2 separate regions of the Homo sapiens genome follow, and region 2 is linked to region 1. The links come from fine-mapping of genetic effects on gene expression. A gene starts in region 1. The other region holds a variant in brackets. All regions are shown on one strand. Distances are from middle to middle. Region 1 holds the start of SPMIP1 (sperm microtubule inner protein 1). Region 2 holds the start of LOC105375497 (a long non-coding RNA gene).

The links.
Region 2: its variant is fine-mapped to the expression of SPMIP1 in esophagus mucosa (GTEx, PIP 0.90).

What each region holds. Positions count from the first base shown.
Region 1 is chr7:128,861,386-128,869,703 of GRCh38, forward strand. SPMIP1 (sperm microtubule inner protein 1) reads left to right here and starts at 4,945. Exons shown (of 2, transcript NM_001195150.3): 1 at 4,945-5,445; 2 at 7,281-8,318. The coding sequence starts at 5,025. The coding sequence ends at 7,390. It overlaps ATP6V1F (ATPase H+ transporting V1 subunit F), which reads left to right and starts at 1,471. Exons shown (of 2, transcript NM_004231.4): 1 at 1,471-1,677; 2 at 3,992-4,462. The coding sequence starts at 1,520. The coding sequence ends at 4,193. It overlaps FLNC-AS1 (FLNC antisense RNA 1), which reads right to left and starts at 1,241. Exons shown (of 4, transcript NR_149055.1): 1 at 1,140-1,241. RefSeq lists enhancers at 1,085-1,194, 1,275-1,764 and silencers at 7,813-7,922, 8,053-8,318.
Region 2 is chr7:128,888,473-128,896,790 of GRCh38, forward strand. It overlaps KCP (kielin cysteine rich BMP regulator), which reads right to left. Exons shown (of 40, transcript NM_001366122.1): 9 at 5,728-5,821; 10 at 5,504-5,583; 11 at 5,334-5,427; 12 at 4,919-5,004; 13 at 4,766-4,847; 14 at 4,397-4,549; 15 at 4,216-4,322; 16 at 4,042-4,135; 17 at 3,174-3,347; 18 at 2,979-3,061; 19 at 2,713-2,806; 20 at 2,433-2,624; 21 at 1,871-2,041; 22 at 391-567. It overlaps LOC105375497 (a long non-coding RNA gene), which reads left to right and starts at 2,757. Exons shown (of 4, transcript XR_927958.2): 1 at 2,757-2,831; 2 at 7,504-7,644. RefSeq lists enhancers at 1,470-2,060, 2,061-2,650, 2,651-3,241, 4,191-5,391. The variant G/C (reference allele first, on the strand shown) is at 4,895.

The sequences.
Region 1 (8,318 bases):
CTCTGTCACCTAGGCTGGAGTGCAGTGGCGCCATCTCAGCTCACTGCAACCTCCCTTGCCCGGGTTCAAGCAATTGTCCTGCCTCAGCCTCCCGAGTAGCTGGGACTACAGGCACACACCACCTCACTGGGCTAATTTTTTTTGTATTTTTAGTGGAGATGGGATTTCACCATGTTGGCCAGACTGGTCTCAAACTCCTGACTTCAGGTGATCTACCCGCCTCAGCCTCCCAAAGTGCTGGGATTACAGGCGTGAGCCACCGCGCCCAGCCTGCAGATCCTTTTTTTTTTTTTTTAGACAGGGTCTCGCTCTGCTGCTCAGGTTTAAGTGCAGTGCCGTGATCATAGCTCACTGTAACCTTGAACTCCTGAGTAAGCCCTGCTGCCTCAGCTTCTCGAGTACCTGGAACTATAAGTGTGCACCACCACGCCTGGCTAATTTTTTTTTTTTTTTTTTTTTTTTTTTTTTGAGACAGAGTCTCGCTCTGTCACCCAGGCTGGAGTGCAATGGCACAATCTCGGCTCACTGCAACCTCCGCTTCCCGGGTTGAAGCAATTCTCCTGCCTCAGCCTCTCGAGTAGCTGGGACTACAGGCGCCCACAACCACGCCCGGCTAATTTTTTGTGTTTTTAGTAGAGACGGGTTTTCGCCATGTTGGCCAGGCTGGTCTCAAACTCCTGACCTCAGGTGATCCACCTGCCTCAGCCTCCCAAAGTGCTGGGATTACAGGTGTGGCGTGAGCCACCATGCCTGGCCTTACCAATTATTTAACTTTCCTTGAAGGCCCTACGCTCTCTAGTCAGTACGCCTTTGCACATGCTGTTCCTCTGCCTAGAACACCGTCTTGTCCTCACTTCTATCCCCTTCATCCTGCAGGTCCTTCAGGTCTCAGCTTAGATCTGAAGCAAGCTTCTTGGGGAAGGGTTCTTTGGACGCCCCCTCTCTCCATGGGTTAGTTACCATGGATGTGTGCTTCCATATACTTTTCACATTCTAACCATTAACACACAGCTTTGTAGTCGCCTGTTCCCTTGACTTTCCACCTCACTAGGCAGTATCATCATTAACTTTTGCATTCCTTTAACTGAACAAACGTGTGTTACTTGTTAACTATGTGTCATAGTTACACACATACATACACGATAAAGACCCAGACCCTGCCCTTGAGATGAGTAACTGCGTCTCTTCTCTGGGGTCTCGGCGTCTAACAGCGTCAGGTCCAAAGCGCTTGTTGAACGAATGAACCAAGGAACGAGTGAATGAACGAATGAATGCCCGCGAAGGACGTGGTGCCGCGCGGTCTTCTGGGAATCGTAGTCCCCTGGTTCGGGCCTGTCTTTACGGCGCAGGCGTATTCACATGGAGGCCGTGTTGCTGTTAATGCGCATGTCCCGGAATGCGGCTGGGAGGACTGCGCATGCTCGAAGGGTGGGGGTTGAGGCCGACGGGGCGCCGTACGGCGGAGGCGGGGTTTCAGTGGCTTCTGGTGCTCTAGGGTGAGCTCTGCCCGGCTGCAGGGATGGCGGGGAGGGGTAAGCTCATCGCAGTGATCGGAGACGAGGACACGGTGACTGGTTTCCTGCTGGGCGGCATAGGGGAGCTTAACAAGAACCGCCATCCCAATTTCCTGGTGGTGGAGAAGGATACAACCATCAATGAGATCGAAGACACTTTCCGGTACGGTACCGCGCGAGGCCTGAACGGGCCCTTCTGCTGCTCGGTGGAGTGCGGGGCGAGGCTGGAGGCTGCCCGGACGGGGGTGAGGGGACGATCCTGAAAGTCCTTCCGCCCTTCCGGAGCGGAGGCCTCCGCGCCCCAAGTCCCCGTTTGGGGCTCGGTGGGACAGAAGCTGTATCAGGTCCACGAGCCCCCCCACCTCACATGATCGTGTGTCATGAAAGAAGGGGAACAGAGCTCGTGACAGCCTAGACAGTGGGCTTGGACTTTGTTCTGCTTTCTCCTCCTTTAGAGGCTCACCATCGTCCCGTAAGGCAGGGATGATTTTTGTCCTACTCACAGGTGAGAAAACTAAAGCTCGGAGAGGGTAAGGCACACACTAAAGTTACGAGTCGGCAGAGGCAGAGCTAGAATTTGAACCCAATCTCAACCCTTTCTGCCTCCGGTAAGCCAGGTACACACTCTTGGCAGGTCTCCTCAGGCGGCCTCGGAATTTCCTTGTAGTCTTGAGCACAGTAGGCAGAAATGTCGGGACTGTGAGAGCCTTCTGCTAAGACCTTGCACTCAAGCCCTCACTGCCTGCCTTAGGTCAGAGTGTGGGTGCAGGCATGCTTTTAATCCACCAGGGGTCCTGGTGACTGGAATTAAGGATACCAGCCTCCTATTTTATTCCTCACCCCTTCTCCAGGGCCCCTGTACCAAGTCTCAGGAATAAACCACTCACCTGTTTCCCCCAAACAGTCCAGCCCAGGGCTGCTGGCTGAGACTGGTTCCTGCTGCCTGGTGTATTAGGTAGTCCCTGACCTGGGAGGCTGTTATCTGCCATTCTCTAAGCTGTCTGGTAAAGTGACCCAAGTTATCATGGGAGAAGGACAAATTTTACTTCAAGAATTTTTTATGTTTCCAACCAAAAGGGACCTCAGAGATCAAATCTAACCCAGTGACTGGCAGGGGGTGGGTGCTCAGTAAGTAATTTTTAATCAGTAAATAAACGAATGAGTCTGGGTGCAGTGGCTCACGCCTGTAATCCCAACAGTTTTGGAGGCCGAGGCGGGTGGATCACCTGAGCTCGGGAGTTTGAGACTAGCCTGACCAATATGGTGAAACCCCATTTCTACTAAAAATACAAAAATTAGCCAGGCGTGGTGGCGGGTGCCTGTAATCCCAAGAAATCAGGAGGCTGAGGAAGGAGAATTGTTTGAACCTGGGAGGTGGAGACTGCAGTGAGCCGAGATCCACCACTGCACTCCAGCCTGGGTGACAGAGGGAGACCCTGTCTCAAAAAAATAAAAATAAAATAAACAAATGAATGGGTGGGTGACCACAGGAGAGAAGGAGCACAAGGCCAGGTTCTTTTTGTGCAGAAAGTGTGATTCCTTCATCAAGGTGTCCTCTTCCTAGCTTGTGATCTTAGTTCATGCCAAACTTTCCCTCTGACCCCTCCACCACCCTCATCAGGATAGACCTTGAGGCCTTCAGTGGTCTCATCAGCCCTATTTTTAAATAATTTGTTTTCTTTTTAAAAGTTAATGTGTCTTTTTTTTTTTTTTTTTCTGAGACAGGGTCTCACTCCTGTCACCCAGGCTGGATTGCAGTGGCGTGATCGCAGCTCACTGCGGCCTCGACTTCCCAGGCTCAAGTGATTCTCCCACCTCAGCTTCCTAAATAGCTAGGACTACAGCTTCCCAAGTAGCTGGCACATGCCGCCACATCCAGCCATTTTTTTTTTGTGTGTATATATATAGATAGATAGATAGATCCGCCACATCCAGCCATTTTTTTGTGTGTGTATATATAGATAGAGAGAGAGAGAGAGAGAGAGGGAGATGGGGGTCTCACTATGTGGCCCATTCTGGTCTCAAACTCCTGGGTTCAAGCAATCCACCTGCCTCGGCCTCCCAAAGTGCTGGGATTACAGGCGTGAGCCATCACAGCTGGCCTTCAGTATCTGCACATAAAAAGGGATCTGCATACATATAATCTTATCCTTCCCCTTTCTGACACATCACTGCATATTGAATACACCAGTGTGCACCCTAATCAATCTTCATTACCAGTTCACTTGGAAGCCTTCCGGGCAGTGTTGTAGAAGCCAACCCTAATCAGCGTGACCCTCCGCTTTGGGATGAAATTGATTCTAGGTAGGGTTGACAGAGGGTTGAGCGTGGCAGCCTTTCCCCTTGTCCTCTGTGCCCTCTGGGTCATGCTCATTCCCCTCCACAGCCCAGCCCAACAACTCGGAGAGGGCTGCCTGGGTAGGAGAGACGGCAGCCCCCAGAGCTGTCCTGGACTCCCTTCTCATCTCTCCCCACAGGCAATTTCTAAACCGGGATGACATTGGCATCATCCTCATCAACCAGTACATCGCAGAGATGGTGCGGCATGCCCTGGACGCCCACCAGCAGTCCATCCCCGCTGTCCTGGAGATCCCCTCCAAGGAGCACCCATATGACGCCGCCAAGGACTCCATCCTGCGCAGGGCCAGGGGCATGTTCACTGCCGAAGACCTGCGCTAGGGGACTCCTCATAGCCCTCAGCCCTTCCCTCGTTTCCAGGCCTCTCCCCAGGCTTGCCATCAGCCTTCTTTACTTTTTGAGCCTCTGATTTCCAATTCCCTGCTCCTTCCCACTCCATTAAGAGGCTAGGTGAGGCGCTTCTAGGTTGCTGGGGCTCTGCTGGTTAAGGAACAGGAAGCCTGACCATCTCCCTCCACTACCTCTTCCCTGTGCTGTTACACAGTGTCATTGTTGATGTTAAATTAAAGTCATATTCTTGCTTCTCTCCAGATGGGTTGGGTGCTGGAAAGGACATGTGTGGGGTGAGGCCATGGGGCAGATTCGGTTGGCAAGGATGGAAAAGGTGCTGCCAAAGACAGGCATAGAAGAGGTGGCCCAGGAGGATTGTGCCGGGAGGCAGAACTCAAGGACTGGTCCTTGGATCAGAGAAGACCAGCTCTGGTCTGGGGAGGAATGGGAGGAGGCTTGAGCCCAGCTCCTGCTTCCCCCACCTTGCTCGGCATTGGGCTGGGAAGGGGGCCAGATCCAAAGGACAGAAGCAGAAAGCACACGAAACCTGGGAGTCTGTGATGCCAGATCCCGCGAGGGCCCTGCGGGAGTTTTGGGGGGAGCAGGGCTCTTAACCAGTGGGCCCTGGCCTCAGGCTGCCTCAGGAAGCCAGGCTCATGGGGTCTGCTGGGGGCATGGCAAGTAGAACCCTGGCCCTGTGTGAGGTGAGGCATGGTTGCCAGGTGACTGTGCCTGGGCAGCCACTCGCCGTCAGAAGCACTCTGCTTGCTGTGCTCACCCCTCAGCTGTGGCCACCCTGGTGCCACTCCTTCCCTGGCCACCATGTCACGGCAGCTCAACATAGACGCGTTACGGCAGAACTTCTGGAAGGAGGAATATCTGAGGGAAAAGATGTTGCGCTGTGAATGGTACCGCAAGTATGGGTCGATGGTGAAGGCCAAGCAGAAGGCTAAGGCTGCAGCCCGCCTGCCCCTCAAACTGCCCACCCTGCACCCCAAAGCCCCACTCTCACCCCCACCCGCCCCCAAGTCAGCCCCTTCCAAGGTGCCCAGCCCTGTCCCAGAGGCGCCTTTTCAGTCGGAAATGTACCCGGTACCACCTATCACCCGAGCCCTGCTGTATGAAGGCATCTCCCACGACTTCCAGGGGCGGTACCGCTACCTCAACACTCGAAAACTGGACATGCCAGAGACGCGATACCTCTTCCCCATCACCACCAGCTTCACGTATGGCTGGCAGCTGGGTGAGCCCAACCTCTTGGAAATCACCTCAAAAACAGAGCACTAGCCATGTGCTAGGGAGTGGGCATCCTGGTGAAGGGTCCAGACTATAAACAGAGCAAGGAGATGGCCAAGAAGTGTCGACACGTTCCACAGAACTAGGGAGTGGCGGTGGGCAGGGAGGCAGCGGCCACGTGCTGCTATTTATTGGATTGTCAGGAAAGGCCTTTCTGAGGACCCGAGGCTGAGAGCCAGATGATAAGGATGGGTTTGGATTTTATTTGTTGTGCAGGGAAGCTGATGGAGGGTTCTAAGCAGATTTCAAGAGTGACACTGGTGAACCTTTTAAAAAGTCACCCTGACCTGTATGTAGGCAGTGGCTTTTTCAGGGGAAATGGTAGAATCTGGCACATGAGTTGGGCATCTGTTTGGTTATCCTGTGGTAGTGGCCTGAGGGATCAGCAATAGAGCTGAAATCAATTCAGGATGTTTTGGGGGAAGACTCGGTGGAACTCACCCATGGATAGAATGTGAGAATAAGGGGAAGAGAGATCAATCACCCAGGTGTTTGTTTAGCTAAAGCTGCAGTGACAGGGAAGACTGGGAGAGGTCAGGGCTGGAGCGTGCATGAACAGGTCCTATTTAGCCATGTGTGTTTGGCTATGTTATGCTTGAAGTGTCTGTAGGGTGGCTGTGTCTATAAGTCTGGATTGAAGTCAGAGCTGAAGATGCAAATTCGGAGGTCATTGGAATATAGGTGCTTTTTTTTTTTCTTTTTCTTTTTGAAACAGTCTGACTCTGTCACCCAGGCTGGAATGCAGTGGCACGATCTTGGCTCACTGCAACCTCTGCCTCCCAGGTTCAAGAGATTCTTCTGCCTCAGCCTCCCGAGTAGCTGGGACTGCAGGCGTGTGTCACCACGCCCAGCTAATTTTTGTTTTTTTAGTAGAGACAGGGTTTCACCATATTGGCCAGGCTGGTCTCGAACTGCTGACCTCGTAATCTGCCTGTCTCGGCCTCCCAAAGTTCTGGGATTACAGGCATGAGCCACCGGCTGGCCTATAGGTGCTATTTAAATCCATGAGATCTCCTAGGGAGCTCAAGTTGCTGGAATCTGATGGGAGTGGGGGCAGGAGGGCTGAGCCAGAGCGGGTAGGGGATGTCATTGGCAGGAAGCCTGTCCATCTCGGCTGAGTCTTTTTTCTGTGAGGTTGAGTCAAGGCCATCAGCGGGGAGGGAGCTGAGCTGAGGCAGTGGAGTAACTAGAGATGAAGAGGAAAGGTGTGGAACAGGCATGTGCCAGGCAGGGCTGCTGGGCGATGTTGCTGCACGTCCCATTGCTGTCTGTGCTCATGAATGTCAAGTGAGACTCCTCAGCCCTGTACCCTTCTCCAGCTGCTTGAGTGTCTTGCAGAAAAGGTGGATGGTTGGGGATTGACTCAGTTGAGATTTTGCCCCCAAACATCCCTTTCCCCCAGGCCCCTAAAGGGGAAGTCAGGGAAATAACTTTCTAACAAAAGCAGGAGGCGAGCCCTAGAAGCGGGGAGCAGGAGGCCGAAGGAAATCTCATCTCTCCACAGTCTGTCCCTGTGACAAGCAGGCTAGGGTGGCCCCCCTCCCTGCAGGTAGAGGATCCTGAAGCTAGGGTAATGATGGCAGATGGCTGCTGTATCCTGGCATCCAGCCAGCTCCCAGTATTTGCCCATAGCTCCCATTCCTCCAAAGCACTTTCTATTTCTTCCCACAAAGTGGCTACTCCACTGACGGATTCCTAGGGCTGTGCAGACAGACAGGGCTCCCATGCTCTGCGTGTCCCTCCCTCAGGAACCCATGCTTGGCCTCTGACATCTTTTCCCAGGCCCCCCAGTGAAGCAAGAACTGGTCTCCTGCAAGATGTGCCGCATTGAGTCATTCTTCCGCAAGAACGGGGCCTTCGCACTGCTTGATCCCCGAGACCTGGCCCTCTGACCGTGGGCCAGGTGTGGGCTTAGGGGAGGGAAGAAGAAATAACAGGCCTCCTGGTGGGGCAAAGCTGCTGTGTGTGTCTGTGCCCCTCTGCTCTCCCTGTCCCTGAGGTTGCATTCAGGCCTTTCTGAAACTATCAGACCTGCAAGTTGCCCTCTTGCTTTTTCCGTAACCCTCATCACTTTAATCATCCCTTTGAGGACTCAGCAATGACCAGAGGGTGCTGGGAAGGGCGAGCACTACTTCGCAGGCACGGGATCCTCAGCACCAGGGGAACACAGTAGTTCCAGGAAGTTCTGGGTGTTCCTGGGGAGAGAGCGGCTTGTCATTTCGGAGGCCAGGGAAAGGGGCCTCCTGCCACCGCCACACCCCTCCTTGCCCGCCCCTCACCTGGCCCCGAGGGCCCGCAGCCGCTCCGTCCTCTCCCGATGCATTTGCTCCAGCTGCTCCCGCAGGGCGCGCCGCCGCCCAGCCGCGTCCTCCTGGCGGTGCGGAGCGCTGAGCGTCCGCGGCTCAGTGGGGCGGGCGGGGCAGCACCTGGCACACCTGCCCCTCGCGCCCCGCCGAGTCACTGCCAGAGTGCAGTGCGCTCACTTCAAAGGGACCCGGGCGCGCTAAGCTCGGCCCCTGCCCCGCGCAGGCTCCTTGTGGCCCCACCGCCTTCTAGGGGTCTTGCCTGTGGCGGGAGTTGAGCCGGACTGGGCGGGAGCCCCACGGGGTGAACCCGGCAGTGGCGGTTCCTGGCGATGTGGAGGCGTTCCAGGACCTGCAGAGGCGGCAGTCAGCGTCCGGCCGCCCCTCGGTGCCCCGCCCGCTCCAGGCAGGCCCCGATCCCGGCGTGGGGACACACCCGGAGCCGCTGCTGCTCACGGTCCCGCCGGCGGCGCTGCCGCCTGGCCGCGCTGTGCAGCTCCAGCAGCCGCTGCAGAGC
Region 2 (8,318 bases), 27 kb after region 1:
CACACAGATACACAGATACACCCACACAGGCCAACACACACAGCCACACACAGATACACACATACACACATACAGCAACACATACATACACACACATATACACACGGCCACACACACACAGAGCCACACACACACAGCCAGACACACACACACACATACAGACACACACACATACACAGCCACACACACACAGAGCCACACATACACACACACATACATACAAACACACAGCCGTGCCCGGGACCTCTATCAAAGGTGAGGGAGTCGGAGAGTGAGAGAAAAGTATGGTGGAGCGGCAGGCAGTGGGAGGGCTGGGAGGAAAGTGGAATCGGTGAGAAAGGCACCCCGGGAGCCCCAGCAGGGGGAATGGAAGGGCAGGTGTGGCTCTACCCTGGCAGGTCGGGCAGCAGTGCCCAGAGGGGATGAGTGGGTGGCTGCAGCCCGGAGGCTCACAGGGCCGGCGGCCGCAGGTCACGAAGCCTCCAAGACAGGTACACAGGTTGCAGGGTTCTCGGGGGTCTGGGAACTCCTGGTTACTCAGGTAGGACTCCCCCAGGTACTCACAGCCTTTCAGAGAAGAGACAGAGAGGCCGAGGGGAGGGACAGAAAGGGATGAGAGGGCAGTGGTCATAGGCTCTGAGCTTGGGCCTGTTATGCATCCAAGATCTCAAAGATCTAGCGTGGGGGCTGGGGGGTCACAGGCCAAGCCCAGGGGGCAAAGCAGTCGTGAGGGGGGCGGGGTTTGGATTGGCCAAAAGGCAAACTTTCTCCCCTTTATCCTGCAAAAAACCTTCCTGTTTAATTTGTAGAAAAACACCCACAAGGAATCTGCTGCCCCTGGGGTTAAATACTCAGCAGGCCATTGCCAGAGGCACCAGTTTCCCAACCCGGAGAGCTGGGAGTAGCCCCAGCTGACTCAGGTGGTGTGGACCCAAGGTAGCGCCTTTCCCACGCTCTTCCGAGCCCACTGATGAATCCAGGAAGGGGTGGGGTCCCAGGGTGGTGACAGCCCGCTCTTGGCACCTCTGCCATTTGCTCACCTCCCTTTTTAAAAAAGAAGGGTGAATTTCAGGCTCAAAGCCTTGGTGGGCAAAAGTATCTGACAAGGATTTAACAACATTATAATTTTAATTATATTCATTTTTATGGTAATGTGGTCCTGGCAAGTCTAATTTTCCACTTACAGTGTGATATAAAACTCCTTTCTAAATCAAATTAAATTAATAAGTGAGTTAATTGGAAGGCAAATAGTAAATAAAATTACAGTTGGTAAGGGCAAGTGGCCAAAATGGCCAAGATCGCACAAGAGTGAGGGAAGACAGGGGGACTGGGGGACTGGGTCTTTTTACAAGAGCCAAATTTAGGCCCAGAGAGGCTATGTAACTTGCCCAAGACCACACGGCAAATAGCAACAGAGGCAGGAGAAGATCCAGGCTTTAGTGTCAGGCTTTTTTTTTTTTTTTTTTTTTTTTTTGAGACAAGGTCTCACTCTGTCACCCAGCCTGGAGTGCAGTGGTGAAAACACGGTTCACTGTAGCCTCAAACTCCTGGGCAATCCTCCCACCTCAGCCTCCGGAGTAGATGGAACTACAAGAGGCACCACGACCAGCTGATTTTAAATTTTTTGTGTAGAGACAAGATCTCTCTATGTTGCCCAGGCTGGTCTTGAACTCCTGGGCTCAAGTGATCCTCCTGCCTCAGCCTCCCAAATTGTCGGGGTCACAGGCTTCAGCTAGGGCTCCCAGCCTCGGGGCTTTTTCTTACTGTAATAAATATTTTAGATCCACCCTAGGGCAGTAAAGATTATTCTGACCCAGCCCTCTGGTCTCCCGCATCCCACCCCGGCAGCTCCCTATCCCATGACCCTCACCATCACAGTCAGGGCAGCAGTCGCCCCTGGCAGGGAAGGGGCACAGTGCAGGGGCACATGCCTTGGGCTCGCAGCTCACGCTGCCCTCCCAGCAAAGGCAGAGGTGGCAGGCAGCAGTGGGCGATGGGAAGCGCTCCCCGCTGGCAAACTCCTTCCCCTGGTACAGGCAGCCTGGGGAGAAGGGCAGGGGCTGGGGGGCCGTGGGGACTAGAGGGCTGTGGGGACTTGGTGGTCGTGGGGTTGAGGGGCGTGGAGGACGGGTGTCGTGGGGGCCGTGGGGGCTGGAGGTCGTGGGGGCTGGGGGTCCGTGAGGGCGGGGAGGCCGTGGGCTCCGTGGAGGCTGAGGTCCGTGGAGGATGGGTGTCGTGGGGGGCTGGGGGCCGTGGGGGATGGAGGGCCGTGCCGGCTGGCTCCCAGGCCATGCTGACCGGACACTACATTCCTAACAAGATCCCCGACGTGGGCGGAGCGGGCCTGGAGGAAGGGGACTGGGCAGGGCGCTCCGGGGCGGGGCGGGGCGGCAGGACGCGGGTGGCCGGGAGGGGCACCGCCAGGGCGTTACCGTCGCAGGAGGGGCAGCAAGGCCCCTGGCGCGGGTGCGCGCAGGGCGCGGGCGGGCAGGGCAGCCGCTGGCAGGACACGGAGCCGTCGAGGCAGAGGCAGCGGCGGCAGGGATCGCCGGGCGGGGAGAAGTACTCCTGGTGGCGGGCGTGGGCCGCGCCGGGCCGTGGGCAGCCGGCGGGGGCTGGGGCGGCTGCGGCGAGACAGCGCATCAAAGGGGCCCAGGAACAGGCCTCCGAGGGGACCCCCAGGGAGGAGCAGCCGAGGGGTGCGGCCCCTACCTGGGCACTGCGGGCAGCACTCTCCCGGCAGCAGGACAGGCTCTGGACAGGGCAGCGGCACGCAGCGGCGGGCCAGGCACTGCACGTTGCCGCTCTACGGACCGACAGACGCACCACGGGTCAGTGGGTTAGTTGGGGGAGGCCGAGGAGACCCCTCCCACCCAGTGCCACCAGGTCCCACCCCTCCCACCTGGGCGGGCCTCTCCTGGCCTCTGCAAGTCCCGCCTCCACTCCCCTGGGCGCCTCCCACCCAGGTGCAGACTCACCAGACAGCGACACAGACGGCAGGGGTCAGAGGGGTGGGGGAAGTCCGCTCCGCTGGGGTACTCTTTCCCGCCAAAGGCACAGCCTGGGGGAGGGAGGGGCTATAGCCTGGGAGAGGGCGACTGCCCCAGGGCGTGCTGCCTTCCGGGGGCCATGCCATCCCATCCCAGAAGGCCGCCCTGACCCGCCCACCTCACCGCTGCAGTCGTTCGGGCAGCAGGTCCCAGGCAGCGGGTGGGCACAGGGGGCCCTGGGGCAGGGGCGAGGCTGGCAGTGGGCATGGCCTTCCTGGCATCGGCACTCCTGGCAGGGGTCTCGGGGGTGGGAGAAGCTCTCGCCGTCCACAAACACCTCTTCCTCCAGGATGCAGTCTGGGCAGTGGATGGTGGGGGCAGGTATGAGGGCAAAGCCTGACAGTCCCTCCAGCCCTGGAGTCCAGAGCCGCCACACAAGTGCCCACTTGGAAGCTGACTCGAGGGGAAAGAGGAGGAAGTGGCCATGTGCACATGTGTGCAGGCATGTGTATCGTTGTGAGCACACACGAGTGTGCGTGCGCATTGGGGGTCATTCACCTGCAGGCAGATGTGTGTCTCTGAGGGGAAGAAGGGGAGTGCTTACACATGTGTGTACCTGTGTTTGACACACGCCCTCACACAGACTCTCTATGCGGGCAGGGACGTGTCCCATGCATCCCAGCACCCGGCCTCCTACGTGGCAGGCTCAAGTGCCTGCTCATGAACCTGTGTTATCCAGGTAGATACATGGGTTTACCTGGGGGGTAGGGGGGTGGGGGCCCTAGCGTGGTGGGGCGGGGGGCAGTAGTTACTAGAAGAGGAAATGGAGCATGGGAGGAGAGGGTGGTGTAGGTACAGGCAGGAATAAACAAATCTCTCTACTCTCCCTCCCACCCACACCCCGTGAGTTCCAGAGAGTTCTAAGCTCTGAAACAAGACTGAAACAATTCAGAAGGCCATTGCTTTCTAAGGTACCTGTTGGGCCCATGGGGCTGTGGGACAGCAGCCTCTGGGGCCCTGATCCCCTCAGGCCCAGTGAGTGCCCACATACCTGGGCACCTGGGGCAACACTGGCCTGGTCCACTCTGGGGCCTGGCACAGGTCGTGGGAGGGCAGTCAACCAAGGAGCATGTCACAGTTCCATCCTGCGAGAGAGCAGGGGAGAGAGCAATCGGGGCATGCCCAGGAGGGGCTCAGCAGGGCAGCAGCAAGGCTGGGCAGTTACCTGACAGTGGCAGGCATGGCAAGGGCTGTCTGCATCCGTGAAGTTCTGCCCATTGGCATACACTTGGCTGTGGTAGGTGCAGCTGTCACAGCTGGGGCAGCAGGCACCTGGGTGGGGCAGGCTGGTCAGGGTGAGCTGGGTAATGCAGGGGAAGAAAGCCAGGATCAGCCCAGGCACTCACCAGGGGGCTGGGTGGGGTGCTGGCAGGGGGCTGGGGGGCAGAGCACAGCCCCGCACTTGGGTACCCCATCTTGACAGACGCAGGCGGTGCAGGGCCGACCATCAGGCTCCCACTGGACTCCCTCAGCAAACTCCTCTCCATCCAGCTCACAGGCTGTAGTAAGGGGGCTGTCACATGGCAGCCTACACACCTCCCACCCATCCCTGTCCTTCCCAGGACACAGGGACCCCACCTTCGCCATCCCCGCTGACACTGTAGAATGGCTAGTGGACTTAGCAACCCGTACCCCGTCCTGGGAAGGAGCACCCTCCTTCTGCAGCCCTCAGAGGCAGCGCCCATAGCAGCTGCTCCTCCCCCTCTCACACACACCTGGGCAGAGCTGGCGGCCAGAGGCAGGCAGGGCACAGGGGGTGACTGGGCACTCCTGCTCCTCACAGGAGACCTCGCCAGCCTAGGAGGGAAGCAGGTGAGACACCCTGAAGGAATGAGGCAGATCTG[G/C]GTGTGAGCGGAGGGACCGCCTACCTGGCAGGAGCAGCGGACACAGAGGCCCCGCTCTTGGAGTCTGAAGGTCTCCTGGCTCTGATACTGGTGTCCCTGGTACTCACAGCCTGGATGGGATGACAGGGGCGTGGGGGTATAGGGCTGGAGGCAGAGGGGAAGCTTCACGTCACCCTGAGGTGTCCAACCCCCACCCTGACAAAGAAGACCCAGCCGAGTTCTCCAGGGCGCCCTGCCAGCAGCCCCCTGCCCCCCACAGCTATGCCACAGAAGCGCAGGCCCCAGCATGGTGCCAGTTTGCCATGAGAAGGTGTGGTGAGGACTCACTTTGGGAACAGGGTAACAGGGGCTTAGGTCCAAGAGAAGCAAATCCCCCACACCTACAGCCTCTCTGCAGCCAAGGCCTGCCCCTCCCGCAGAGACCCCGGCCCCCACTCACCATCGCAGACAGGGCAGCACTGCCCAGGGATCTTGCCTGGGTGTCTGCAGGGCACTGGCGGGCAGGGCAGAGGCTCACACTGGACACTCCCATTCTGCCAACAGGGCCTGGTCAGCACGCCAGAGGCAGGCCCCGGAGCCAGGCCCTCCCTGCCAGGCAGCCACACTCACAGCACAGCGGCAGTGCGAGCAGGGGTCCCCTGAGCCCACAGGCTCCCCGCTGCGGTGCTCCCGCCCGTTTAGGAAACAGCCTGTTGGGAAGGGGGGCCTTAGATGTTCCTCAGGGGCCCCTCCCCACCCTCTCCTGGCCTTCATGGGCCCCCGAGCAGGGCCACCCATCAATTTTCTCCAGGTTGCCCACCATGGTCAGGCCTCTGCCCTACCCACTGACTCACCATCACACACAGGGCAGCAGGTGCCTGGGAGGGGCCGGGCTGGGTATGGACACAGGCTGGCACATTCTCGCTGGCGGCACTGGATGTGACCCTCCTGGTGGGGAGAATGAACAGGGGAAGGGGCCGACAGGGCTCAACTGAGAGGTGGAAATGGCATTAGAATCCCAGCTATCCACTTATTAGATGTGTTTATGGGTTGAATTGTGTGTCCCCGCCCCCAAATCCATATGTTGAACTCCTCACCCCCAGCACCTCAGCCTGTTACACTATTTGGAAACAGGGTCATTGCAGATGTAATTAGTTAAGATGAGGTCATACTGGAGCAGGATGGGTCCCTAATTCAATATAACTAGTATCTTTTTTTTTTGAGATGATAAAAAAGACTTGCTGATAAAACAAGTTGCAGGTTTGCAGGTTGCAGGTTGAGATGGAGTTTTGCTCTTGTTGCCCAGGCTGGAATGCAATGGTGTGATCTCAGCTCACTGTAACCTCCACCTCCTGGGTTCAAGCGATTCTCCTGCCTCAGCCTCCCAAGTAGCTGGGATTACAGGCACGCACCACCATGCCCAGCTAATTTTTTATATTTTTAGTAGAGATGGGGTTTCACCATGTTGGCCAGGCTGGTCTCAAACTCCTGGCCTCAGGTGATCCACCTGTCTTGGTCTCCCAAAGTGCTGGGTTTACAGGTGTGAGCCACTGTTCCAGGCAATATCCTTCTAAAAAGGGGAAATTCACACACAGACACACACAGGGAGAATGGTATGGAAAAGAGAAGGCAGAGGTTCAGGTGCTGCAGAAGCCAAGGAATGCCAGAGTTCACTAGCAAATCACCAGAAGCGAGGGCAGAGGCTGGAGCAGATTCCTCCTCACAGTCCCAGAAGGAACCCTCCCACACCTTGATCTCACACTTCTGGCCTCCAGAACTGTGAGAGAATATATTTACATTGTTCAAGACACCCAGTATGCACTTATGCACTTTGTTACAGCAGCCCAGGAAACTCATACAGATACATAAACTAGCATGTCACTTAAGCTCTCTGTGACTCAGTTTACTCGTCTGAAAAAAAATGGACCTGAAAAAATAGTCCTGTTCTCATAGGCTTGTTGTGGGATGAAAGGAAACAAGGGGGCTGGTGTGGCATCTACCTCTAGAAGCTGGTACTTAGCATGGTGGCTACTGCCACTACCCCATGGCCTGACCCCAAAAGACCCCATGCCTTGAATTCACACCCACATCACTGGGCTCACTGCCTCCAGCCCCATCAGGGTCTGAGCAGCCAATGACTTCTCATGGGTGGGGAGAGGGAGGACGTGGTTGTGTCAGAGGCGTTTGAACCAAAGCAACTCCATCTTGAATAGGGGCTAGGTAAAATGAGGCTGAGACCTACTGGGCTGTATTCCCAGATGGTTAGGCATTCTAAGTCACAGGATGACAAAAGAGGTCGGCACAAAATACAGATCATAAAGACCTTGCTGATAGAACAGGTTGCAGCCAAAACCCACCAAAACCAAGATGGCAATGAGAGTGACCTCTGGTCGTCCTCACTGCTACACTCCCATCAGTGCCAAGACAGTTTACAAATGCCATGGCAATGTCAGGAAGTTACCCTATGTGGTCTAGAAGGGGGCATCATGAATAATCCACCCCTTGTTTAGCATATCATCAATAAATAACCATAAAAATGGGCAACCAGCAGCCCTCAGGGCTGCTCTGTCTATGGAGTAGCCATTCTTTTACTCCTTTACTTTCCTAATAAACTTGCTTTCACTTTATAGACTCACCCTGAATTTTTTCTTGTGCAAGATCCAAGAACCCTTTCTTGGGGTCTGGATCAGGACTCCTTTCCTGTAACATCTTTCTGGCGACCACTGAAGGGATGATAGTGCGGAAACCCCCGACCCAAAGGCTAATTTTTGGTAAGTGGTGGGGTCTGGTAATATCTTTCTGGTGAGCCATGGAAGGGACAATACTGAAGAAACCCCCCGACCAGAAGGAAATAGGCTGCAGCACTGACTGGCGGACTGTGGGTAAGTGGGGTGCATATACCCGGGTAAATAATGGGATTGGGTTAGAGGCCCAGCTTAGGGGAATTAGAGGCCTCTCTTAATAAAAGGCAAGGATGCTTGATGGACCTTGGGATAGAGGCCCAACTGGGGAGGGTTACAGTCCCTTCTAATATTTAGAGGGTTAGAGGCCCCTCTGGGTAAAATCCCTCCCGGTTAAGAATGGGTTTGGCACTACGGGATGTTAACTGCTATTCTCTTGGGATTAATCTGCCTTGTACTCTTTGCTGACGGCTATGGGTGACAGGATTAGGCAAGTACAGGATCGTGGGACATGCGGAGCTTTTTCCTCCCTAAAAGGGAAAACTTAAGAGCTAATAGGACTGCCAAAAAAGATCCCTCCATGGCCGGTCGCGGTGGCTCACACACCTGTAATCCCAGCACTTTGGGAGGCCGAGGAGGGCGGATCACGAGGTCAAGAGATTGAGACCATCCTGGCCAACACGGTGAAACTCCGTCTCTACTAAAAATACAAAAATTAGCTGGGCGTGGTGGCACACGCCTGTAGTCCCAGCTACTTGGGAGGC